Linked DNA regions of Homo sapiens. The protein of the gene in region 3 interacts with the protein of the main gene of each other region in a pairwise test. Each region holds a gene or a part of one and is shown on either strand. Other genes may lie near its edges. The genes, in order: DNAJC15, CCDC116, FAM9B, CWF19L2, RUBCN, PHYH and UBE2E2.

Region 1 (4,128 bases), on a different chromosome or scaffold from region 3:
GCTGTTACCCTTGTACCTAAAGATGCCATCCTAATCCCCAGATCTCCACAACTATACCTACATAGTAGAAGGTTAAAATGTATCCCTCTTTTTCTGGTGCATCCAGCAAAAGTAATATCATGAATTATGAGCTCTCTGAGAGCAAGGATCATATCAGTCTTGTTTATTGTTGCAGTGAACAAGTACAGTTGCAGATATTCAGGAGTAATTATCTAAATGGCAGTAGGCTTATAAAACTGAATTTTCACCAGCCACACCCTCCCCCCAACTCCTTATCTGTAAAAAGCTTATTTGAGTGGTTACCTGTCTTCAGTAAAGATTGCGCTTGCATATTTGCTGTCATTGCATATTCTGCTTAATTAAGCTCTGTTGATATTGCAGTTTCTGTGCATACTTACATCTTAGATGCAATCTGAGGGCCTAGGAAGGCCTTTTAAAAATAAAACAATTCCGATTGCAGAGAAAGTGTAAGTCAAGGACAGTTAATTCAAGGGGAACATAGAAAGCTATTTAGATTTTAGTTGATGGTGCCAGTCTTCAGCGTAAAGTCAAAAGTGGAGGGAAGTTTAGTAAGGAAAAAATGTTGGGCTTGGAATACATTGTTTAGTCTTCAAAGCACTTTACTTTTTATGAAATATATTTTAGACATTCAGCAAATATTGAATACTTACTATATCAGGCAGTAAAGATATAAATTCATTCTTAAAATGTGCAACATGTTCAAACTGAAAAAAATACATTCTTAAACAGGAAACTTTTTCCTTCATACTTTTTAATTAACAAGACATATAAGAGTTGCATTAATGGGCGTGCTTATGATTGATCACCCAGCAGCATCATTAGAAATAATATATTTTATTCATGTGCAGAAATCTTTTGGTTGTCCTGGGGAACCTTGAACACAGAAAAGAGCTTTTATTGATAAGGTAATTGAACACACTTGACAATTAGCTTAATATGGTTTAATACCATTTGTGGGAGAAGATGAATCAGCCAGGCTCTTTACGTCAAGAATATGAAGTTTCTCTTGAGTCAACCAACTTAAGATGAGCTACGGAGACTGCAGTGAAAAGTTAAATATCCAAGTACACCAGCCAATTTCACACAGTGGAACCATGCTGTCCTCGGGCACCCTGCACCTCGCCCAACAGTCATCAACTAGATGGAGGCTCCTGGCTGCAAGGAGGATTTGATGGGAATGAGTAAATGTGTCAGCATAGTCCGTCCCTTCTAATGGAAAAGCAACCCAAAGAGCAAATCCTATTAATGGCTGGATCAGTATCATCTACTTGTCAAAAACATTCCATGAATTATGAGTCAAAATTTTATTTATGGTGGCATTACACACATTAAGAGATGAGGACTTCTGTTAGCATAATTTATTAGCTGGAAAAGTTGAGAAGGTTCTCTGGACTCATTTTTATAGGTGGAACCTAAGTGATCTGGATAATTGCCCACCAGCAAAATTGCTGGGCATGGTGGACAAAGAAAATGTTCCTTCTAATGATTTTTTATGAGCTGAGTAGCTATTGTTCCCAGCTGAGTGCTCTTTTCCTCTTTTTATTGTTGCTGAGCAAAAGAATTTATAAAAAGCTCTTTCTTTTGTATTAAAAACCCTGCTCAATTGAAATGCAAGTTCATTAAGTAATCTTCATTTCTCTTCCTGCCATAATAACCCTTTCCCTCTCTGTTCGATTCAACAGTATCTAGCAGCACTGCTCCAAATTTTAAGTCTGAACAGACTATATTACATAGATGTAGAGAAATACTCAATCTTCAGCATTAAGAGGGAGCTTAATTTCACACGGGTGGAATATGATCACTCAGGCTAGATGTTGGCCATAAATTTCAAATTAGTATCTCAACTTAGCAGGGGGGATCAACAGTGGCAAACTTCAATTATGACAGGATAAAAATCACATAGAGATATTGGTTCAATATGGACATCTAAACTATAATGCTAAAAGCCAATAATTAGAATAAGTTCATTTTAAGAAAAGCATTAATAATATTAGCTAACGTTTAGTACCTGTGCCAAACATTCTACCTATGTTACCTTGATTTTCATAGCCAGCCTAAGAGGTACTATTATGTATCCCCATTTTACAGGTTAAGAAACAGGCTCAGAGGAGTTTAGGATCTTTTCCAAGATTACATAGCCAGTAAGTGGTGGCACTAGGAACCAAATTCAGACTCTGAATCGCATGCTGTTTATATTATATTGCACTCATTCTAAATATGTGGGAATCAGAATGAAGGGGCTTGTATGACTTTTGGCTCATTTTTTGATGCATGTGACCTGGGATTATAAATGTGAAATTAGGTTTACGAAAGGATCCAGTGTCATTGTGCATCATGGGCAAGGAGTACCTAATCTCTTTAATTCTTCCCTGGAAGCTTACGATGTCCATCCAAGTGCACATAGCAAAAGTTCTGTTGTAAAGTTTAGCAGAGTGACTTTCTTTGACTCAGAGTGATGACGGAGGAAGCTTTGATAAGATTTTATCTGAAATGTTCATGGACAAGAGCTTTCAAGGAGAACATCCAGAGCAAGGTTCTGAAGACAGCTCATGAAGGTGAAGCAGCAGACCTGGCACAAGAAATGAAGAGAGAGCTCAGTGTATTAAAGATGAAAACAAGAAAACCGAATATATTGAAAGGAGCAGAGAGGCAATGAAAACAAGACAACTGAAATGAGGTAACTTGCAGCAATTGAAAGGGAATTTCAGTACTTTTATAGAATTCTTAAAAATTGTTTCCTGCTGTTTATTTTCAATTTTGAACAGGGTTATTTGTCCATGCCATACTTTTTTTGCCAAATTCCAAAATTGTGTATAGTTCTATAGTTGTCTGGTGGAGTCAATGGAACTTTAGTTACCAGTCTAAGAATGTGTCTTTGAGATTGTCCAGTTAATTCTCTATTTCCAGTAGCTGTAATAAATGGTGAAAAGGTTTCTGACTCCTGGAGAAAGTTTCTAACTCCTTATGACTAATATTCATAACAGACTTGTGAGTTCCTTGAACATGGATACACCTATATGCAAGAGTGTATTCCAAAGCTAACTCAGTGATCTTTCCATTTATCTATTCTTGGATTAGTGGTGCCTTTGCTCTTTCCTTCTGTAAATGTGAATAGTTAAGAGTTGACTGCAGAAGTGTTTACACTTTGGCTTCCATGCCTCTGGAATGTTTGTGCTTTGGTGGTGAGATGTGAGACTATATTTGTATAGTCTGCATCTCTCAGGCTGCCCCAGAATGTTGTACAGTGCAGTGCTGAAGAAAGCAGCAGGTACACACAGAAATGCAGCCTTTCCTGGTTAACCCTGCTTGGATCTGAGTTACACTTTGTTTCCTGACTTCTTGGGACTTAGGTAATCAGTTTGCCTTCTACTCTATCTCATTTTGTACTCGCTTACATACTACATTCTTGTTTGGGCTTTCGTTTCTTCTTGTAAGCAGAGATTTTTTAAAATCCAATATGTGAAAATACGGATGCACTACAATTAAATAAATAAAATGCTGTTGTGTTTGTTTTGCTTTAAAATTGTAAAGGATAAACAATAAGATAGTTTTATCTATGTGGTTTTCCCGATGCAGTTAAAATAAAACCTAATCTGCTAAAATTGAATTTACACTCAATTTTTCTGTTGTATAATTCTTGAAGAACACCTCATGTGTTGTACAACTTCATCTACATTGTGAACTCTTTTATTTATTGAAAGTCTATCTTAGTCTTTCACTTTTTCTACACTTCCCTTTACTTCCTCATGAGATGCTCAGCCCAGTTGTCCCTCAGGACACAGTATCGATTGGTTCACTTTTAAAAGCAACTGTTAGAAACCCAAATCATAGACATGTGAATTTTCTCAGAAGCCATTATTGAAACTTGGATTTTTACCTCTCATACCAAAATAAAGAAGGGAAAAAATAGAAATCAGCCCAACAATACTTTTAAATTGATTTTTATATTTATGTTGTAATGCAAATACCAAAGAAAAGTGCCTAGTTCCTTGGTTTATTTACTTATATCTTGCCTCTGTTATCTTCATATCAATTTTTGGCCTTAGCACTTTTGACTGCATAAAGAACTCTAAACATAGGCAATGGTAATAGAAATGCTGACACATC
Region 2 (4,062 bases), on a different chromosome or scaffold from region 3:
TCAGAGGTCCCGAGGGTCTGCAGGTGGGAAGGAGGAGACTGACATTTATTGAGCACCTACTTGGTGCCAGACACTGAAAGTATTAGAGATTAAGGGTGACTTGCCTCTGTTCTGGCCCCAAAGAAGCACCATCTGATAGAAAAATAAGTAGCAACATGGTATGGTAGAGTCTGGAATGGGGTTTACTGTGAATTGCGTAGGGCGTGGCAGAATTCACAGTAAAAGGTTTTTGGAAGAAGTGACACCATGGTGGGGTATTACTGAGCAAAGGGGAAAAGGAGGGAGGGAGAGGAGGTAAGAATATACAAGGCTCCGCTGGGCGCGGTGGCTCAGGTCTGTAATCCCAGCACTTTGGGAGGCCAAGGCAGGCGGATCACAAGATCAGGGAATCGAGACCATCCTAGCTAACACGGTGAAACCCCATCTCTACTAAAACTACAAAAAAATTAGCCGGGCGTGGTGGCGGGCCCCTGTAATCCCAGCTGCTCGGGAGGCTGAGGCAGGAGAATGGCGTGAACACGGGAGGCGGAGCTTGCAGTCAGCCGAGATTGCGCCACTGCACTCCAGCCTGGGCGACTGAGCGAGACTCCCGTCTCCAAATAAATAAATTAATTAATTAAAGAATACACAAGGCTCCACTGGGTTACTGGGTGTGCTGTAGGGAGATTTTATTGAATCCCATACTCCCATATTGGAAGAACACTCAAGCCCATTTACAGTGTGGGACTAATGCTGAGAGGTTGAGTCACATTGGCAGGAAAGAGCAGAGCCAGGAACTGAAGCTAGGTCTGTGACTTAGAGCCGGCACTCTTTCCACTGCAGAGGGGAGAGGTCTCAAGGCAGAACCTGGGGCTGTGCACACCGCGGGAAGGGCAGAGGCCCCTGGAAACGAACAGGAGCAGGAGGCCCAGGGCTGCGCAGCAACCAAGGAGGACACGAGGAAGGTGCTTGTGCCACCGGTGGAAGACGTGGCTTTGGCTTTTAGGCTCCCCTCGGGGCAGGAGCAGATCAAAGAGCCTAGCCCCAGCTTCGGTGGTGGGTGGGGGGTCCTCCCGGCAGCGGGGAGCGTGGGCACCAGCATCCTCAGCCTGCGGCTCCCAGGCGAGTGTGGGAGGGCAGAGCCCAGAGAATTGGAGGTGGGGCCAATGTGGGCCCCGCCCCCAACCATTGTGTCGGAGAGGGAAGTGGACGAGCTCCTCGGTAAGAACCAATGAGGATGTGGTATGCAAATAAGCAAGTGGAGGCCGCCAGCCGACTTCCTCGCACTGTGCAGCTGCTCCAGTGAGGGCGCAGACTGTACTGGCCTGTGCGGAGCAAGGCGGTGTTTCTGGTGAGTCTGTTGATTCTGGGCTGGGGTGAAAGCCAGGTTGCCCAGGGTTTGGGAGGAGGGCGGGTCGAGCACACGCAGATCCAAAGATGATCGGAGACAGGATTGTCCTCAGCGATTCCACCCCGATGACTCTGGAAACTGCCTGCCTGCAGACGCATGGGGGCCATGGAGCAGAGGAAGGGCTGGATGCATGAAGGAGGCGGGGTGCGGGGAGCGAGGGACCCGCAGACTCCAGGGCCACAGATGCGTGGACCTATTGGAGACCCTCAGGTTGTCTCCCCACCCCACGCAGAGAGGAATGCGCAGCTGAAGAGAGAGGTGGGCAGCAGGCCCGGTCACCTGCCAGGTGACCACATGGCCAGGTGCCGCCACCACTCGGGTTACCTGGCCGATGACGAGGCCAGCCACTCCATGTGCAGTGCACGGGTAAGTGTGCCCAGCAGGGCGCCGACCCTTGAGGCCACAACATGTTCCCCACCAACCCTGGCACCCAAGACCACAACCCCCATTTCTCATTGTCTATTGACTTCTCTGGGCCTCTTAGTGAAGTCCTTATTGCCTTGACTTCTCCTATGTCCCCCACTGCTTGCCCCTGTCACACTCAATTTCATTCCTTGTTTCCTCCTGACTTCCAGCGACCCAGAAGGTGCTTGGGTGGACTGGGACCCTAGAGTGGGAGCATGGAGTTGACTAGGTGCCTATGGCTCAAGTTGGAGAAACAGGCCCGGGTAGCACAGGGCTCAAGACCTCAGGTGTTGTCTGCACTCAAGACCTCAGATGTTGTTTGCAGCCCTGCCATGGATACAGGGATGGCCTGCTGCATGGACAGATGAGGAGCTGGAGGGAGACTCCGAGAGATTCATGATTGCTCATCCTGCCACGTGTCAGGGCAGAAGCAGGCTTGCAGACTCCTTAGCCAGGACTTGTGTGTGTGAAATGTAGGTGTTAGGAAAGCTTCGGGGTGACCCTGAATAGACCTCCACTTTGCAGATGAGGACATTGGACCTCAAGAGGGGCCATCTTGCACACTGGCATCAGGCTGTAGGTGGCAGAGCCAGGGTCCAAACCCAGGGCTTCCAGACTCCAAAATGCAGCTCCTTCCACTACTCACTCCCACCCAGGTCCTAGTGTTACCCCAGGGAACCCTTCACCTGTAGGGCACCCCTGCCCCCTGTGACATACCTGTCTGCTCAGGTGCAGCTGCCCAAGAAGCCACTGGTCCCAGAAATGCGGCCAGCCTGCAAGCCGGGCCGTGTGCCACACCCACCATCCACATGTGGCAGCTCAGCACTCCAGGGCCAACGCCGAAACAAGAGGCACCCTCAGCCCTTTGGCCACTTTCTGGATTTCCTAACTGAGAGCCAGGTCCTGGACAGCCTGGAGACAGTGGTGGAGAAGGCGACTGAGCGCATGGCTGCCATGAAGACGGAGGCTGGGGTGCCGCTTGTGGAGGTGCAGGACCCAGTGGAGGTGCCAAGTGGTGGACGGCGGGCACATGCCCGGCCCAGCCTCAGCACCGTACACCGGCACCGTGTACGGCCGACCCTCTGCACTGGACACCCCAACAACTACCCATCCAGCTCCAGCTCCATGTCCAACTGCCATAGCAGCCTCATGGCCGGCTGTCTGGGCTCCCACAGCCGGGACAGTGACCTAGGTGCCCAAGGCTCATTGCCACCTGTGAGGGACAAACTCCTGCTGGAGAAGAACCTCAAGCGGCTGCTACAGCTGGAGAGGGAAGGGGTGAGAGCCAGGGCCATGGCTGGGTGGGGTGGACTCCCATGGAGAGCCCAGGGCTAGGGTCAGCCCTGGCTTGGCTGCTCCTGAACACTTCACAGAGTCACCCTCTTTCTGCAGAAAGGCCTCAGTCAGTCCTGCTCCCAGAGGGACTCCCTGCTGTGGGATTCGCTGGGTAGCCAGACCAGCTTTCAGTGGACACAGGAGCAGCCCTTGTCCTGGTTCTCAGGGCTGCTGGGCTCAAGCTCTGGCGTGCCTGAAGCATCAGAGCCGAGGCCTGGAGAACAGGAGCCAATCTTCCGCAAGCGAGAGTTCAATAAGGAGATCAAGTCATTACTGAGCCAGCTGGAGTCCCTCGACCTGCCTGGCTACTGTCCGCTCCGTGAGCCCCATCGCACGCTGAACTTCCTGGCTGACCACCGCCTCTTCCCTGCCCTGCAAAGCGTGGTCAGCCAGGCTGTGGATAAGCTCCGTGGCGCCCACTGCCGCGACGGCCGTCCTCTGTTCCCCACCAGCTTGGAGCCCACCTCAGATCTGCCGCCTCTGGGCTCTGAGCCAGCTAAACCCACCAATGGCGGGCAGCCCTATGCTTCCCCCCGCCCCACAGTCTCCAGCCCCAAGATGCTTCAGAGAAAACGCAAGGACAGAGGAGGCTCCCCCTCCATGTCTAGTGCCCAGGTGGCCACCAGATTCAAACTCAAGGTGACACCCACGGAGAAGCCCAATGTCCCCAGCCCCTCACTCCACTCCAGGGAGGAGGCACCTGACTCAGATCCCAAATTACAAAACCCACCTGTTTCCCTGAGCTCCAGCCAGAGGGCCCAGCCCTGGCAGGGCCTGCACCTCACCCTGCCCACGCCAGGGATTGTGGTGGAGGTGGCCTGCAGCCAGGGCCACCTCAGGGGCCCTGTCACACCTCCACTTTCCTCCCCCTACCCCCGCTCTTCCTGCTACCTTCTCCCTGAGCTCTCTCCAGTTGCCTCTTCATCTCCCGC
Region 3 (3,500 bases):
GTATGTAAAAAATATTTGCATTGTGGTACAAATCTTTTATGATTGCTGAAAATTATTCTTAGCAATTGATGGTAGAGCTCTGATGTGAAATCATGTTTAGGAAAGCATTCCTTGCAGTATTACAGTTTTCTGAAACACAGCACTATGGGTACAAATGTCATAAAAAGCTCCAAGAAAACATTTCAAAAGTGTTTTTGAATGTATTTCTTTACCTAAACCTAAATTTTTATACTCATGGCCATTGCTTCTTTTATTAAAATACAGTTAATAGCATCAATCACTAGATTGCTTAAAAATGCTTTTCTTATTGTGCATTAAGTTATTTCTACCCTTTTGAGGGTTCTATTATATAAGATACTTTTTTGTGTGCTTTACGTAATGAATTGTGCAGTATTTCATGGAAGCATCTCCTTTGAATTGTAGGACATTTTATAAATGTAGAAATTAAAGTCTGTGCTTATAACTCTTTCTGCACATTTAAAAAATAGAGACTTTTAATTATTTGCTTTTTTTCATCATCTGTCAATTAAGTGATTTTCAGTTATACCAACTGGAATTGAAATGCGAATGTTAATACCTGAAAGGTTTTACAGAAAATAAGTGAGTAAATCTTGCTTTTTGAAATGATCTTTGCATTTTATATTTTAAATATCCTTCTGAAATTGCTGAACCATAAAGTCCCATATTGATGTCAGTATATGCAAAGAAACTACTTTTCAACATTAACTTTTAATCCATTTTCATTTACTATCTAACTGACATTAAAGAGGATCTTACTGCAAAAAGAAAAAGGATGAAAATGGATAAAACTTGCAGCAAAACAAAGAACAAAAGTAAACATGCTTTGAGAAAAAAGCAACTTAAAAGGTATGACTGTTGGCTTTTTTGCATAATGATATTTATATCATTTCTTTGTATTAGTTGGTGCAAATAATTTCAAAAACTATCCTGTACATATTGGCGTCTCTAGTGAACAACATATTTTACTTGATTGTTCTCTAAGTAGGTAAGTTTCTTTAGTTTTATAACCTCAGTTTAACAGAATTAAGAGATATTACCTAGAAGCCAATGAAGATGACCTCTTTTTGCCTTCCAGATAAAAATAGCCTTCTTGTAAAATTAATGTTTATCCATTTCTAGAAATATGGTAGCTGCATATAAGATAAATGTTCTCAATGTTTAGTCTGTAGATCCTTAACGATACTCAATTATGTAGAAAGGGATAACCTTATGTTGTAAATAAGTTATCTATTTTAGTTAAATTGTTTTCACTATTTCTTTTACAAAATCATTGGTGTGCCAAAGTGGAGAAATAGTTAAGTGAAGTTTTTCTTTTGGGAAATCTTATGGGATGAATGGCTATGATATTCTTGAACCTACTTATGAGAACCCATATGTTATTCAGTAAGAGGAAATGGAAAGTAAACTGCTCTTAGAGAAAATGTTTCTGGGAAAGTTATAGTGCAGTAAACCCTCCTTTGTCTTCAGCAGGTAAAGAATGTAAGATAGCTGCTCTAGTAGTCAGGAAGAAAAGAATCCTTTCAAAATGAGAGTAACTCATTTCACTTTTTTCCAAAAAGAAGATTTCAGCTGCTATTACTCCCTTGCTACTTTATAGTATAAATTATGTCAAGTCAGTTTGGGTTTGAATAGGATTAATTTTTCATCTCTCTATGACGTATGACCGTGTTACTTATTATGTGTTACAGGCAGAAACGTGATTATATACATTCTCTGAAGTTGCTAAATGTCCTTGAAGAATACATCACAGACGAGCAGAAAGAGGAAGAAGAAGAAGAGGGAGAAGAGGAAGAACTAATTGTTGGTATCATGCTTAGCTTTATGTATAACCTGTTATGTCAGTGTCTCAGGTAGTAATAGTTCATGCAGAAATCCAGCAAAGAAGGAAGAGCGCATGAGCCCAGAGAGGGGGGCCCGTTAGTGGACTAATGGACTAGGGGAATATAATTGCCACGCAGCATTAGGGGTCCAACTGAAGTCAGCATCATAACGATGAAGAAGTTAAAGTAAGCCCAGTTGGCATATTTGTGCAAGCACAGCTGTAGGGTTGGAATTTCCTGGGTCGGGGTGTAGCCGAGCAGATTGATAGAGGGAGAGTTGGGCAGGGAATAGATGCAGAGATGGGGATATGATGACTGGCTGTGGAATTTCAGCTGGGACTGAGTTATCTGAGCACACGGGAGTGGGCAATGGGCAGTAAAAAGTGCTCCATTCAGTGGGTGTCAGGTCCCAACAGACTCCTGAGCTGTAGTACTGAAGTGAGTGACCTACGATGGCAGGGAGGTAGTGGCTGTATGTTGGGAAGTTGGAGAAACAGCTGAGTGCAGTGGTCAAGGGCTGGGACTATGCATCCACACTGCTTGGGATTCTAGCTTGACCATTGCTAGCTCGGAAACCATGGAAAAATTATTTATCTCAGCTTGACCATTGCTAGCTCGGAAACCATGGGCAAATTATCTTATCTACGAAAGGAGACATGGTAAGAGTACCTACGTCAGAGTTGTTTGGAGGATCAAAGGGTTTCTGTGTAACAGGTTTATTTAAGTTTTTCAGGATGTGATCTGACCCATGGTTGCTCTTTATCATTGCTATTATTAATATTACGTAGGTGTTGAAGTCATTGGGAATGACAAAATCTAGGGGATGACTGTGTGAGTGAGTGCCACGTAGAGGAGAGGAGAACACTGTTGTTGGAGATTAGGTCAGGGTGCAGAAAGGCAATCATTATTGGGTGGTTCATCTATGTGCATATTGAAATGACCGAGATTTAATACATGCTTAAAATCTTAGAAAGAATTTTTCTTAGTTAATTTCTGTATAGATCTTACCTATCTGTGGTCAACAAATTATAGGAAGGTTCATCAAATACTCTTCATTGGAAATCAAGAATTAGGACATATGTGTTGAATGTGTAAAAGTAAGAAAATTCTTTACTTAATGACTGATAAAAAAGGTTAATACATCATTTTAGCATGTTATTGGTGAACACAATTGTTTAAAATTGGTCCTAAATGTTGTCTAAAAGAAAGTGTTCAGAGGTATTGATTTAAACAGTATTCCTTTAAAGCTAATGCAGAATTATGTTTTGTAAGTATTAAAATTTACCCAATTTTTATCACTATTTTGTTTTGGGATTCTAGAGAATATTTCAAGAACAACAGAAGAAGTGGCAACAATATAGAAGTGTTAGGAGAGAGAGGCTGAAAGAGATGAAGCTGCTACGTGACCAATTCGTAAAGGTCTGTTCTATTTGGTAACATAATACATTATAAAATACAACACGTGCATAATAGAAGACAGTCTGCTTGTTTCTGAATGTATGGAAAGACATTTGATTATACATTTCAAATTACTTAGCATTTTCACTTTGAATGTATTGTTCCAGATATAATATAATTGGTAAATGTATTTTTAGGATTCATGAATAGTTTGTGGGAGTTATTTAGAACAGGAAAAGGTAAATTGGAAATTTTACCTAG
Region 4 (3,500 bases), on a different chromosome or scaffold from region 3:
CAAATACACTAAAAAATTTGGAAAGACACTACCAACACTGTTAACCTGGCAAATAGGATTAGGGTTGGAAGTGACATGAAAGGGAGATTTACTTTTTCATTTTATACTCACCTATGCTTCATATTCTTGTTTTATACTCTTCTGTCTATATTGTTTAAATTTTATACATATACATTTATTAAGATTACAAATGGCATGTTCTAAAAAATAATACTGGTGTAAATAACAAGAAAGGTAAAGATATATGAACAATACATACAAAGAAGTAAAAACTAATTCAACTAATTTTTCCAATCATGACCATTCACTTATAAGACAAAGATTATTTGTAACAACTAGGCATTCTTCAAGGTCCTGTCTTGGTCTCCTACTTTACAACCACTCTACATTCTCAGGAATCTTTTTTTTTGGATGATTCCTAGATTTTTCTTTCCCTCTCCAGCCAGTCACAGAATTCATAGAAAGCCTCAAACCCTCTGTACCATCAAATTAACACAGCGAACAAAGAATACTGTCTTCAAAGGAAAAATTACATGTATACATACATATATATACACACATATATAGCTTTTAGTGAGTGCTGTCTTCAAACCGAAAAATTATATACATACACAGCTTTTAGTGAGTGCCTGTATTATAGTGTATCTATCAGAAGCTTACAACTTAAATAAGACATACAAATATGCAGCAATCAGACAACCGGTTGGAATACTAATCGTGTGGTATTACTTTGCAGACATTTTGCTTAGCTACAGTCACAGAAGAAGGCCTACAGATCATCCAAATGCTAACCCAATCCTAATGATATCAGGAAATAAGAGCCTCATTCCCCTAGTGACTGGGAACTGGAAATAGTCTACCACCCAGGGCACCTGGAGTGAAGACTGGACAATTACATATGCATACAGCCTTAGACAATAATCCCTGCCATGTTTGTTTAGTCAATACAATTGGATTTCTCCTTCCACTTCCTGGGAGGAAAGCCCTGATGTGAACCAGAGTCCATTTGACTGGGGCTTAATCACTCAGTTCAGATTTTGCCAGCTCCCTCCCACCGAAAATTACACACTGAGTTTTATAATCCACTGCTTCAGATGGAGTCATTAACAAAAGTGATTTATCAGACTCACAACCCCAAACCACAGTGCTTTTATCTACTACAACCATGTGTTTCTATTATTTCCTAAAACCTCTTCCTTTAGTGTCCCACTCATTTGGTGCTATTTTTAAACATATTTTAATGATCATTCACGTGTAAGTTGTTACCCTTTGGACACTTTTTTTTCTGGCTATCTCCAACAGGGCCAGCAAATTTCTAAAGCAAATTTTCTTAGGTTTAGTCCCATTCAACCTGGGTTTCCTCATCTTCTAACCCAGCCCTACATAAATGCAACATATATTTTATATTTAAAACTCTAATATTATCTTTAAAATCTGTCAATTGCCCAAAGTGGATTATTTCTTTCTTTGTGCAAAATAACAACCATAATTCATGCTCCCCTCTGCAAGATCTCTGGCATGTATTTGTCACTTTATATTTGGGCCGTGGCAGCGTGTTTTCCTTTTGTCTCCTAGACTTCCTATAGACATGCAGTATTTATGATTATGATTATACTCAACAATAAGATAATTTCCTTAGAAAGTAATGGCATTGGTAACAAAATCTACCAAAATATCTCCTGCAGCACATACATTTAAAACATTAACTCATTCAGTTTTTTAAATTGCAAAGCAGCAACATATTTTGAACAAATATAGCTACTGCTTTCAGCTCTTAAAAAAAAAAAAACCTATGAAATAAAATGCAATCCATACCACAATACTGCCTGTTAAATCTGCATATCTTACCCCTTCTATCAATTTTAAGAAATGTGAGATCATAGTCACAGCTAATAACTGATGTTCTAAAAATACAGTTCTGTTCTTTGAACTCTCTGGATCTTAACTTATTAGGTTAAAAAATGATAAAATACCCAGCAAATGTAGACTTTGTATCCCGTAGATGTTCTTTTTTTGGAGGGTCATCTCTCAAGACTTCATCTTGTGATTTTTCTCTTGGGTCTTCTGGAACATGTTGGTGTTCATCAGTACTGGTTTCCGATGGCTTTTGATTTGAATGTTTCTTGTCTCCTCTCCCATCAGAGCGACTCCATGATGTTAATCTTTCTTCACTGTTCTTGGTGGGTTTTCTAAAACCACTACACAAAGAGCCCTGAGCTACCAATGCTGAAGATGAACTAAGTGGTTCAAATTTTCTGCCCTTGCTGTGAAATGACAGTTCTTCATCATCAGAGGGTCTCAAGAATTTAGCTCTCAAATTGCCAAAAGAAAACTCTTGATTTTGCCTTGGGTTAGATTCTCTTCTACACGTTTCTAAAGACCCAGGTCTCTTATCTTTTTCATCACCAATAAATTTTTCATTATTGCTATTTTTTGCAGTATCTGTTGTAGCATATCTATCCCTTGAACTGTTACCATATTTTACTAAGTCTGATTCTCTACTTTCTTGACAATTTTGTGCTTTATCTGAATATGTGGGTTTCCTCCACCGTTCCCGTCTATAATCTTCTTTCGTGGATGCAGCTTTTTCAGCATCTTCTAATTTTGACTGAAATATTTCCATTGACTACAAAGGAGAAAAATTAAACAAGATATCTAAAATTAGGAACGGCTCAGTGACTTGCACCCCACATGTCACTGTATGACTCACTGCCAAGTGGCACACTGAAAAGCCCACTAACGGGGTGAAAGAAGACCCATACAATCATCCTATACGGAAACGAATACTTTCTAAAAATGTGTAAACAATTAAAAATTATTAAATAACAAAAAGATTCCAAAAGGATAGCCAGTTACACCAAACACTCTGCACTAACACAAAGTATAACACAGAAAACAGTAGAGACAAACTTTGCAAAAAATACTTAATTCCTACTGGTTGTGAGATTCAAGAGGTTAAATTGCTAAAACAGATTCTCACCAAAAAAAAAAAAAAAAACAGAATAGTTCAAGAACAAGAAAGACTTGGAAATAAAAAATTGTGTGTCCCAAAAAGCTGCCAAGATACACCAAAAGGAAGAAAAGACAGTGCTGAAAACTAAATTAACCTGGGAATTCTCTATATTTTAGGAAAAGGTAGTAAATAAATGTAAGTTATAAGAAAAAAAGATACATGAACAATTGATTCTAGAAAATCTAATATGCATTTATTAGTACTTCCAGAAAGATGGAGCAAAGATGATGGGAATAGAGCATTAATTTTAAAAATATATAAGAAAATTTCCCCAGCCGATTTCTCAGAAGGACTCATCCAATAGCCTTGGGTGGGGGAGAAAGAAGAAAAACACAGAAAAAAACCCTAATACCTGAATCTCAAAACTCAAGGAAAAAAAAAAAAACCTTTACAAGGACTAGATCAGGGAAGGAGTGAATAAGTGTGAGCCTGTATATGGATAGGGGTAGATAAATAACAAATTATCCACAAAGGAAAGACAGACTTA
Region 5 (3,500 bases), on a different chromosome or scaffold from region 3:
GTAATCCCAGCACTTTGGGAGGCCAAGGCGGGCAAATCACTTGAGGTCAGGAGATCGAGACCAGCCTGGCCAACATGGTGAAACCCCGTCTCTACTAAAAATACAAAAATTAGCTGGGCGTGGTGGCGTGCACCTGTAATCCCAGCTACTCGGGAGGCTGAGACAGGAGAATCACTTGAACCCGGGAGGCGGAGGCTGCAGTGAGCCAAGATCATGCCACTGCATTCCAGCCCAGCCTGGACAACAAAGTAAAGACTCTGTCTCAAAATAATAATAATGATAATAATTAATTAAAAGAATCTGGAGAGATAGGGGATCTGCTTCTCTAAGAAGTGGGGACTCTGATTCCATTCTAGCTAAGGCACTGACTGGAGTATTAGTGATGGGATAAGTTAATTTTAGGCAACAAATTTTCTTTGTACTATAAAATTTTCTTTACATCAAAGAAAAAAACATGAAAAAACTGACCCCGTGTAACATTAAGCTATGCCAGGTCTGACACTAAACTCTATCCGATTCAAAACCATCCCTCTTTTCCCCAGATCTTTGTCAAGGCTTGGTATCCTTTGTCAAAAGATACCACAGGTTTAACAAAATCTACCTCCCCACTCCCCAGCTTAGGTCTACTAAGCACACGACCTAAGCCTAGACTTTCTACTTCAATAGGTACTTAACAGTACCTCCCCTCCTCCAAGCATTTTAAATGAAAGCTGGCCGGGCGCGGTGGCTCAGGCCTCTAATCCCAGCACTTTGGGAGGCCGAGGCGGGAGGATCACGAGGTCAGGAGATCGAGACCGTCCTGGCCAACATGGTGAAACTCTGTCTCTGCTAAAAATACAAAAAAATAGCTGGGTGTGGTGGCGGGCGCCTGTAATCCCAGCTACTCGGGAGGCTGAGGCACAAGAATCGCCTGAACCCAGGAGATAGAGGTTGCAGTGAGCTGAGATTGCACCACTGCACTCCAGCCTGGGAAACAGAGCGAGACTCTGTCTCAAAAAAAAAAAAAAAAAAAAAAAAAAAAAAAAAAATGCAAGCCTTTCAGCTCACAAAAATGGCTAAGTGAAAAAGTTTGCTGTAGAGGGCTACATCCTGCTGAGCTCCAGGGACCCAGCATAGACGTGGATAATTCCTTGTCCCCTGTACCATGGACGCATCGATCTGAGCCAGGAGGCGGGGGTTGTTCTGTTCCACTGCTTCCAGGCACTGCAGCATGGCCGTGACATGAGCGTCACTTAGCAGGAAGGCAGCATCTGGGGAGAGAAAAGCTGCCACAGTGATAGAGCCCATCAGGGAGGCCTTGAGAGAAGCTTGAGGAAGCAGAAAGGGAGAGGTAAGGATGAATGAGGAGGAGGGTGAAGGCAGATCAGAAACAAAGTAGAGGAGAAGCTGAAGAACGCGAGGTGCAGCAAAATGGCCAGGGCAAGAGGCTTCAACGTCAGAAAAATCCAGATTTGAATCCTGGCTCTGAGTGACTTTGGCCAAGTCGCCTAACCTCCTGGAGCCCTGTGGATTGGAAACAGTAGCACCAATGCCCAACTCTCGGGGCTGCTGTGAAGATACTGGACAGCAGTGACGGGCACACAGGAAACTCGTGGTAAATGGTGGCTATTCTTACGGTTTGTGTGTGTGGCCGTAGGGGACGACCTTAACATAAAGCTGGATTGTGTCTTACTTGGGAGGTGAGAGGTAAGTCTGGATATATGTTTCTGAGTAGAATCCCTATGGCATCAAGTGAAAAACAGGAGGCCCTGCCGGGCACGGTAGTCACGCCTGTAATCCCAGCACTTTGGGAGGCCAAAGCGGGCAGATCACCTGAGGTTGGGAGTTCGAGACCTGCCTGACCAACATGGAGAAACCCCATTTCTACTAAAATTACAAAATTAGCTGGGCATGGTGGCACATGCCTGTAATCCCAGCTACTCAGGAGGCTGAGCCGGGAGAATTGCTTGAACCCAGGAGGCGGAGGTTGCAGTGAGCCGAGATCACGCCATTGCACTCCAGCCTGGGTGACAAGAGCGTAAGTCCATCTCAAAGAAAAAAAGAAAAATAGGAGGCCCTGGTACCAGAGGGGTAGAGGATAGTGAGGTGGGTGACAACGAGGAAGCACAGATGACAGTCCTAAGTGGCCTCTACCTACCTGTGTAGAATTTTCTGATATACTGTCTATCCCCGAGCAGGGGCCGGAGCTGGGCTGAGAGGCAGTGGTACTGCAGGCTGTGCTGCAGCCACAGCTCGGCAACAGCACGTTCACTGGCACCATCAGCACTGCTCTGGTCGTTCTCGTGCACGCTGATGAACTGGGAAGCAAAGGGGCATGAGTCAAAACACACATCCTGGTAGATACGGCAAGATTGAGGCCTAATGACCTGAGAACTAAATTGAGACAGGTAAGGGAAATGCTTTGAAAGGCTTCACCCTGGGTCCCATGTAGGCAGGCTTTTTTGAAAATAGCAAAACTTTTTTTCCCTTCCCCAGAGGAGAAAAAGTGGCCTGGACCAATGGGTTTGCATGTTTTTTTTTTTTAAGCAAATAAAGTCAGTCCCTACAGGGATAATTAATTTCCTTTCCTCAGCTGATAGGCAACTGGACATATTCCCTCCTTGGAGCCTAGAAGATTCTTCTGACAGAGCCTCAAACAGTGAAGACCCACAGCTCTGCCAGCACAGCCGCTCTGCTCTCACTCTTACCTTCTCCACGTGAAGGGCTGAGTGGGGACTGAGCCACCGGATGTCTTTCACGAACTGCCAGTAATCCGTCTGGCGGCGGCACGCCTGCAAAGGGAACACATACAATGAGCAAATCACGACCATTCTGGACCAGATCTAGTTCTAGGGTTGGCATTCAAAGATAGGAAAAGGACCACAACCTTCCCTTGCCTCATCAAAGGTTCTTAGCAGCAATCAAAGGATACACACAGAGGCCAGGGGTGGTGGCTCACACCTGTAAACCCAGCACTTCAGGAGGACTGCTTGAGTCCAGGTAGACTGGCCCATCTCTACAAACAATTTAAAGCTTACCCCGAGTGGTGGGACATGCCTTAGTCCCAGCTACTCAGGAGGCTGAGGTGGGAGAATCACTTGAACCTGGGAGGTCAAAGCTGCAGTGAGCCATGATTGTGCCACTGCACTCCTGCCCAGGCAACAGAGTGAGACCCTAACTCAGAAAAAAAAAAAAAAAAAAGAAAAGGAATTAAAAAAAAAAAAGGAATACTACACTTGACATATGTTTACCCTTTTAAAGAATAATTGTTAAAGATTATTTTAACCATTCTTTTGAACAGGTAACATATGCATATGACATACAAGGTATACAGTAAAAATAATGTTTTCTTTTTCTTTTTGTTTGAGACAGAGTCACTCTGTCACCCAGGCTGGAGTGCAGTGGCGTGATCCAGCTCACTGCAACCTCCACCTCCCATGCTGAGGCGATTCTCATGCCTCAGCCTCCCGAACAGCTAGAACTACAGGCACATGACATCACGCCTGGCTAATTTTTGTATT
Region 6 (3,500 bases), on a different chromosome or scaffold from region 3:
ACTCCTGACCTCAGGCAATCTACCCGGCTCAGCCTCCCAAAGTGCTGGGATTACCGGCGTGAGCCACCGTGCCCGTCCTGTTTTGTGTGTTTTTTTTTCTTTTTCTTTTCTTTTTTTTTTTTTTTTGAGACAGAGTCTCACTCTGTCGCCTAGGCTGGAGTGCAGTGGTGCGATCTTGACTCACTGCAACCTGCTGCCTCCTGGGTTCAAGCGATTCTCCTGCCTCAGCCCTCAGCCTTCCAAGTAGCTGGGAGTACTGGTGTGCACCACCATGCCCAGTTAATTTTTGTATTTTTGTAGAGACGAGGTTTCATCATGTTGGCCAGGCTGGTCTCAAATTCCTGACCTCAAGAGAGCTGCCTGCCTCAGCCTCCCAAGGTGCTGGGATTACAGGTGTGAGCCACTACACGTGGCTTAGAACTTTTTTTGACATCAGCCACTTCAAAGGGGATTTCAAACTTGACTCCATATCACTCTCTTCAATGTAATTAATGCAACTGGTTTTTGAACATGCATTACTGCATGCTAGGTACTGTGCCCAATCCAGGGTCACAAAAGAATAAAGCACAAGGCCGGGCGTGGTGGCTCACGCCTGGAATCCCAGCACTTTGGGAGGCCGAGGCGGGCGGATCACGAGGTCAGGAGATCAAGACCATCCTGGCTAACACAGTGAAACCCCGTCTCTACTAAAAATACAAAAAATTAGCCGGGCGTGGTGGCGGGCGCCTGTAGTCCCAGCTACTCGGGAGGCTGAGGCAGGAGAATGGCGTGAACCTGGGAGGCGGAGCTTGCAGTGAGCCGAGATCGCGTCACTGCACTCCAGCCTGGGCAGCAGAACAAGACTCCGTCTCAAAAAACAATAACAACAAAGAATAAAGCACAACAGAGATGAGGATGTTATACCGCTTGCTGGAAAATAGTGTGCATAAGTACTTAGCTACCAGCAACCCGGAAGAAGGGAGTGCGGGATTTGAAGATGTGGAGCCAGTGTGTTGATTTCCAATTTGGTGTTTATCTCTCCGGGGCTGATTTTCTCTAGCATTATTTCATTTGTTTGGTTCTTCTGGGGACAGGTCATTGTTTTTTCAGGCAAAGGATAAGAATTCTGAGACCAGCTTTTTTTTTTTTTTTTTTTTTTTTTTGGTTGGGGGTGGGGGACAGGGACTCGCTCTCTGTCACCCAGGCTGTAATGCAGCAGTGCAATCATAGCTCACTGCAGCCTCGACCTCCAGGCTCAGGTGATCCTCCCACCTCAGCCTCCCAAGTAGCTGTGACTACAGGTGCATGCCACCACACCCGGCTAGTTGTTTTTGTTGTTTTGTTTTGTTTTGTTGTTTTGTTTTCTGTAGAAACGGAGTCTCACTGTGTTTCCCGGGATGGTTTTGAACTCCCAGGCTCAAGCCATCCATCTGCCTCAGCCTCCCACTTTGGGATATATTTTTATATCCCAAAGTGCTGGGGTTACAGGCGTGAGCCACTGCACTCGGCCTCGAGTATCCTTTAGTAGCAGGTTTTCTTTTCAGGCAAGAAGACGTCCCGTCACCCCCTGCACCAGGACCTGCACTATTTCCCCTTCAGGCCCAGCGATCTCATCGTTTGCGCCTGGACGGCGATGGAGCACATCAGCCGGAACAACGGCTGTCTGGTTGTGCTCCCAGGCACACACAAGGGCTCCCTGAAGCCCCACGATTACCCCAAGTGGGAGGTAGGTCTGCCCGGCGGCTGAGTCTTGATCCGAATCTCCTTCGCAGTTTCTGTTTCACATCAGTACCTCTAAAGAGTTTACAAATGAGATGGCATTTCCTTTCTGAGCAAAACATTGTCCTAAGATTTGCAGTGAGGATCAGAGAAAGTTCAAGGATGTCAGAGAAAACATTCATCACACCTATTTTCAACACTTTTTTTGTTTGTTTGTTTTTGAGACAGGGTCTTGCTCAACTCACTGCAACCTCCAACTCCCAGGTTCAAGCCATCCTCCCGCCTCAGTCGCCCTAGTAGCTGGGACTACGGGTGTGCACCACCACGCCCGGCTAATTTTTGTGGTTTTAGTAAAGACAGGGTTTTGCCATGTTGGCCAGGCTGGTCTTGAACTCCTGACCTCAGGTGATCTGTTCACCTCGGCCTCCCTAAGTGCTGGGATTAAAGGCATGAGCCACTGTACCTGCCCTTAACACGTGTTTGAAAGCCAGCCAAGGTGGGGAGCTTGGGTAGGTACTGTATAGGATCCGAGATTGTAAGTCCTAGCTGCAGAGGTAAGACATAAACCCTTCGACCCCAGATGTGTGTGGTAGACACCAAGTCAGTCTTACTCACTAACTGATGGCTCTCAGAGTAAGGAAGGAGAGATTGTCTCCTTGCAACTGCAGAGACCAGCAAAGGATCTGGGGAGGCTGGTGTCTGACCTGAGCCTTGCAGGACAGTGTACAATGTCCCATAGGGAAGAGTCGATATAGGAAGGCACAAGGTCAAGGGCAAGCCTGAACTTGACCAAAGAACAGGAAAGACCCAGGGAGCTTGCAGTCTAGATGGGCTGGGCGCTGGGGGTGTATTTTGGGGAGCAGCAGAGGAGGTGAGCCCAAAAATGTACATTAGGACCAGATTAGAAAAGACTGTTTTACTAACAAGTCTGCAGTTTATTTGGGGGAAGAATGGGAACTTTTTAGTTCAAACTTTTAGGAAGATCGAAGACCCTTTTTGTTTTTTTGTTGTGTTTTGTTTTGTTTTGTTTTTGAGGAGTCTCACTCTGTCACCAGGCTAGAGTGTAATGGCACGTTCTCGGCTCACTGCAACCTCTGCCTCCTGGGTTCAGGTGATTCTCCTGCCTCAGACTCCCGAGTAGCTGGGATTATAGGCGCGCACCACCACACCCAGCTAATTTTTGTATTTTTAGTAGAGACGGGATTTCACTATGTTGGCCAGGATGGTCCTGATCTCTTTAACTCGTGATCCGCCCACCTCTGCCTCCCAAAGTGCTAGGATTACAGGCGTGAGCCACCACACCTGGCTGAAGAGCTTTTAATTAAAAAACAAACAATTAAACAAATAAACAGTTTCATTGAGGTATAATTGTCATGTAAATTGTACATATTTTGCATGTATAATTTGATCATTTTCCACACACACATACCTGTGAAATCATCACCACAATCAAGATACTCCATCCTTCTCCCTGCTCTAGGCAACCACTGAGCTGCTTTCTGTTACTGCAGGTTAGTTTGCATTTTCTAAAATGTCATAGACATGTAATCACATAGTATAGATTTTTTTGTCCCGTTCTGGCTTCCTTCACTCAGTGTAGTGATTTTGAGGTTCATTGATGCTGTTGTGTATGATAGTAGTTTTTTGTTGTTTTTTTTTTTTTTTTTGAGACAGAGTCTCACTCTGTCACCAGGCTGGAGTGCAGTGGCACGATCTTGGCTCACTGCAACCTCCGACTCCCTTGTTCCAGCAATTTTCCTGCCTCAGCCTCCCGAGTAGCTGGGACTACAGGCACAAGCCAC
Region 7 (3,500 bases), on a different chromosome or scaffold from region 3:
TACGAAACACTCATTTTAACATCAATATATTGGGCTAAGGGTTCAGAAAAATGAAGCAGTGTATATGTACTAACATGTTTAAAACACACACATACATTTCTTGAGTTAAAGAAAATTCAAAAATTTACTGAGAGCCAAGTAGAACATGAATGTGTGGATACGCAGATTCGCAAAGTAATTTCTTAGCAGGAATTTTTTTAAAACCCTTCATCTCATCTAGACAACTTTCTATATTCCCTTACAGACTACATTCCTCAGTCAACCTAAAAACCCCTACTCTAATCAATTGAATCACCTAGCGAAAACCTTCCAAAATGAACTTATTCTCAAAAAAGCATCATGCAACTAATTATTAAAATTTTTTAAATGTCAAAGCAATCTTTAGAAAACACATTGCCATTGCAAATAAGAAGTCTAGAGTTTCATTCTAAATGGTGGTATATACTATATATCTATGATTCTGAAAGATCATTGATTTTAAGACACACCATCAATAATTGTGCACATAAATTTTAAGATGTGTCCCAATTTCAGAAACATTAAAAAGTTTTAAAATGTACTTTTAGAATGAAGAAAATACAGTAATTACAAAAGATTATCTACAAAAGTACTATTTCATTCTCATGTGGAAAACAAACTTAGACGAGCCCATATGATAAAAGTTCAAACTGGAATACAGTGGAATCAATCTTTCAACCTAACAAAAATTTAGTCTGAAACCAAAAACCATACCTCGAACAGTATCATATTGAATGTCCAAAAATAAAATCACCATGTCCACTCTAAACAGTTAATTTAGAATAAATATGATATAAAATTCACATTTACAGATGTATCAACCCGTAAAAGCAGCAGAATAAATTCAAAGAAGATCTCAAAATAGACGTTTTATTGAACTGACTAGTCAATTTAATCAAAATAATCTAAATCTGTCACTGCAGATATAGTCCAACAACAGACTTGCAAATATAACAAGAGTGATATAGACATATCAAGAGAACAGGCTGTGATAAGAGCATGACAATTTTTTAAGAAACTCTTGCCAAAGAAAAGCAAAAATGCATCTAAGATGTAACTGTAATCTTTCCTCCTAACTCTGAGACAGAAATTAATTTCTACTGCTGTTTAAATACCCACTTAAATGTTTTCTGTATTATATACCACTATTCTATAATATCACAAATGAGATTTTTCAAATCATAGTTCTATACCAGCTTATTAATTCTATAATTACTGCATTACAATTATTAATTCTACAATTATAGTACATTTCATATAATAACTGAGCACCTACGTGCAAGCACTTTTCCTAAGTCACTACAAAATGTATTTAATTACGGCATCTGAGTATTTCTAGTTTAACAATAGCATTAAGGCCTCCAAGGTTAACATATACCTCATTTTTCCAAAGTTTGTACCAAACAGACTTGAAAAATATGACCGTAGATTTTAACTGACATAAAGTCTATCAGTGACGGCATCAGTTTTGAGAGCTTACTATGTGCCAAATAAATGCTTTATCACATTTAGTCCTCACAAGAACCTTCTGAACAGCGTACCGTTATCATCTTCCTTCTACGAAAGAAGAAATCGAGGCTTTGAGCTGTTAAATTATACATCAAGATCACAGAGGCTAGGCACAGTGGTTCATGCCTGTAATTCCAACACTTTGAGAGACCAAGGCAGGAGGATCGCTTGCAACCATGAGTTCAAGACCAGCCTGAGCAACATAGTGAGACTCCCATCCCTACAAAAAATACATTAAAAATTTAACCTGGTGTGGTGACACAACCCTGTAATCCCAGCTACTTGGGAGGCTGAGGCTGGAGGACTGAATGAGCCCAGGAGTTGGAGATCATACCACTGCACTCCAGCCTGGGTGACAGAGCAAGACTCTGCCTCAAAAAAAAAAAAAAAAAGACCACAGAGCTATAGCTACTAAATGCTAGAACCTAGATTCAAACGTAGATGCTGTCTCTAGAGTTCAAGCTCTTCAATGCTACTCTTTATCTCATAAAATGACACTATTTGGGAAAGGCTTCTCATCTGAATAAAAATGATCGTCAACAAAAAAGTGTGAAATAAAATTTATTTTGAAACTACCTCTAACTTTTAATCTTCTGAACACACTAGTACTAAGATCCTAATATCCATGGAAAATCCGATCCCTATAAGAAGCTCAGGGTTCCAAGGCAGCCAGTAAATAAATACTGTGACTGTACTCTGCTAGGCACTGTGGACATGGCAGTGAACTTAAAAGATGTGGGGTCCTCTGTGCTCATAATTCCCAATTTTTTTCCTAAGTTCAGCAGAAATGGCAAAGAACCAACAACTTCACTATCAGCTGAATTGGAGGAAGAGAGAGGGGAAAATAAGGTTTTTTAAATTAAAAAATTAGTAGTGAAGCCGCATTTTTATATTTAAAATAAATAGTACATAATTACATCATTTCATACACTGTCACCCGAAAACCAACTGAAGACCTTTCTAGAGGAAGATCATGAACCACAATTTGAAAATCACAGATTCACAACAATTTGCCAATGGAGGGATTCTTTCAGCCAGGAAGCAACTCAAAAGAGACTTCCTATTTTCACCAATGCAATACAACCACTTTCTATTTACTGCCAATCAGGCACTGCGCTGCGCTCTGCACATACATTATCTCTAAACTAGGTTTTATCTCCTACATACAGTGCAGAAAAATATCTTCTATATTTTTCCCTCGTGAAATCTATCATTAGGTTTGAATAATCCGTACTTTCTCTATATACTGTAGTAAAATAAAGATGACCCACGTACTTGAAAAACTCATGTTCACACATAAAGCAGTACATCTTTCATAAGCAGAATTTGGTCTTTGACATATCACCCAAGAAATATGATTTTAAGGTATTTTATAGTGGTGCTCCCAGTTAGAGGAAAAGGCAGAGCCTCACCACAACAGGTGACTTTGCTAACTAGCAATCATAGAATAAAGCACAGGCCCAGCAGAACCCTATTCCCCACAGACCTGGCCAACCAATCCTTCCCCTTTTCTGACAAACTGAAGAGGCCCTGTAAAAACCCAATCAGACACTGAGGACTGAATTAGATCTTCCTCATCTGCGTGGAACTACAATCTGTACCTGAACATCTCCTTCCCACCTACATCGACTTCCTTCTTTCACCTAAATGTCATATTTTCTCTATTCCCCACCTTTCTCATCCATCCTAACCCCACCCCCCATTTTCCAGGTCACCTCTAAGCAGGTCATTTGTGTTGTGGTCTGGCAAACAGAAGGGTCAGCCAGCTGAGTCCCCGGTAATTGTGTTGTGATGGCAAAACAAACTGAACCCTCTTCCCCACCCTAGCATGGTCTAGTATACAGGTCTCAAAGTTTAAAGTTCAGGGCTCTCTGACTTTCAAACAGCTCCTTCAACAGAGATCAGCAATACACCCCCACGAAAGGGAAACTGAATACTCTAGTACCTTGGAATAACCACTCACCATCCCTCCA

The links.
Region 1: the proteins of FAM9B (region 3) and DNAJC15 interact in binary tests that used the Homo sapiens proteins (3 or more experiments, as listed by UniProt).
Region 2: the proteins of FAM9B (region 3) and CCDC116 interact in binary tests that used the Homo sapiens proteins (3 or more experiments, as listed by UniProt).
Region 4: the proteins of FAM9B (region 3) and CWF19L2 interact in binary tests that used the Homo sapiens proteins (3 or more experiments, as listed by UniProt).
Region 5: the proteins of FAM9B (region 3) and RUBCN interact in binary tests that used the Homo sapiens proteins (3 or more experiments, as listed by UniProt).
Region 6: the proteins of FAM9B (region 3) and PHYH interact in binary tests that used the Homo sapiens proteins (3 or more experiments, as listed by UniProt).
Region 7: the proteins of FAM9B (region 3) and UBE2E2 interact in binary tests that used the Homo sapiens proteins (3 or more experiments, as listed by UniProt).

Annotation. Positions count from the first base shown.
Region 1 is NC_000013.11:43,110,586-43,114,713, forward strand, and holds the end of DNAJC15 (dnaJ homolog subfamily C member 15), read left to right. Parts: 3' UTR 1-3,628; downstream 3,629-4,128. UniProt on the Homo sapiens protein: Negative regulator of the mitochondrial respiratory chain. Prevents mitochondrial hyperpolarization state and restricts mitochondrial generation of ATP. Acts as an import component of the TIM23 translocase complex. Stimulates the ATPase activity of HSPA9.
Region 2 is NC_000022.11:21,631,498-21,635,559, forward strand, and holds the start of CCDC116 (coiled-coil domain-containing protein 116), read left to right. Parts: upstream 1-1,262; 5' UTR 1,263-1,330; intron 1,331-1,482; exon of another isoform or gene 1,483-1,486; coding exon of another isoform or gene 1,487-1,684; coding exon 1,685-1,756; intron 1,757-2,524; coding exon 2,525-3,073; intron 3,074-3,187; coding exon 3,188-3,769; coding exon of another isoform or gene 3,770-4,062.
Region 3 is NC_000023.11:9,027,628-9,031,127, reverse strand, and holds part of FAM9B (protein FAM9B), read left to right. Parts: intron 1-531; coding exon of another isoform or gene 532-560; exon of another isoform or gene 561-767; coding exon 768-867; intron 868-1,709; coding exon 1,710-1,821; intron 1,822-3,161; coding exon 3,162-3,260; intron 3,261-3,500. UniProt on the Homo sapiens protein: May play a role in meiosis.
Region 4 is NC_000011.10:107,426,826-107,430,325, forward strand, and holds part of CWF19L2 (CWF19-like protein 2), read right to left. Parts: intron 2,627-3,500; coding exon 1,974-2,626; intron 1-1,973.
Region 5 is NC_000003.12:197,702,405-197,705,904, forward strand, and holds part of RUBCN (run domain Beclin-1-interacting and cysteine-rich domain-containing protein), read right to left. Parts: intron 2,772-3,500; coding exon 2,688-2,771; intron 2,298-2,687; coding exon 2,138-2,297; intron 1,251-2,137; coding exon 1,144-1,250; intron 1-1,143.
Region 6 is NC_000010.11:13,286,565-13,290,064, reverse strand, and holds part of PHYH (phytanoyl-CoA dioxygenase, peroxisomal isoform a precursor), read left to right. Parts: intron 1-1,523; coding exon 1,524-1,705; intron 1,706-3,500. UniProt on the Homo sapiens protein: Catalyzes the 2-hydroxylation of not only racemic phytanoyl-CoA and the isomers of 3-methylhexadecanoyl-CoA, but also a variety of other mono-branched 3-methylacyl-CoA esters (with a chain length of at least seven carbon atoms) and straight-chain acyl-CoA esters (with a chain length longer than four carbon atoms).
Region 7 is NC_000003.12:23,209,827-23,213,326, reverse strand, and holds part of UBE2E2 (ubiquitin-conjugating enzyme E2 E2), read right to left. Parts: intron 1-3,500.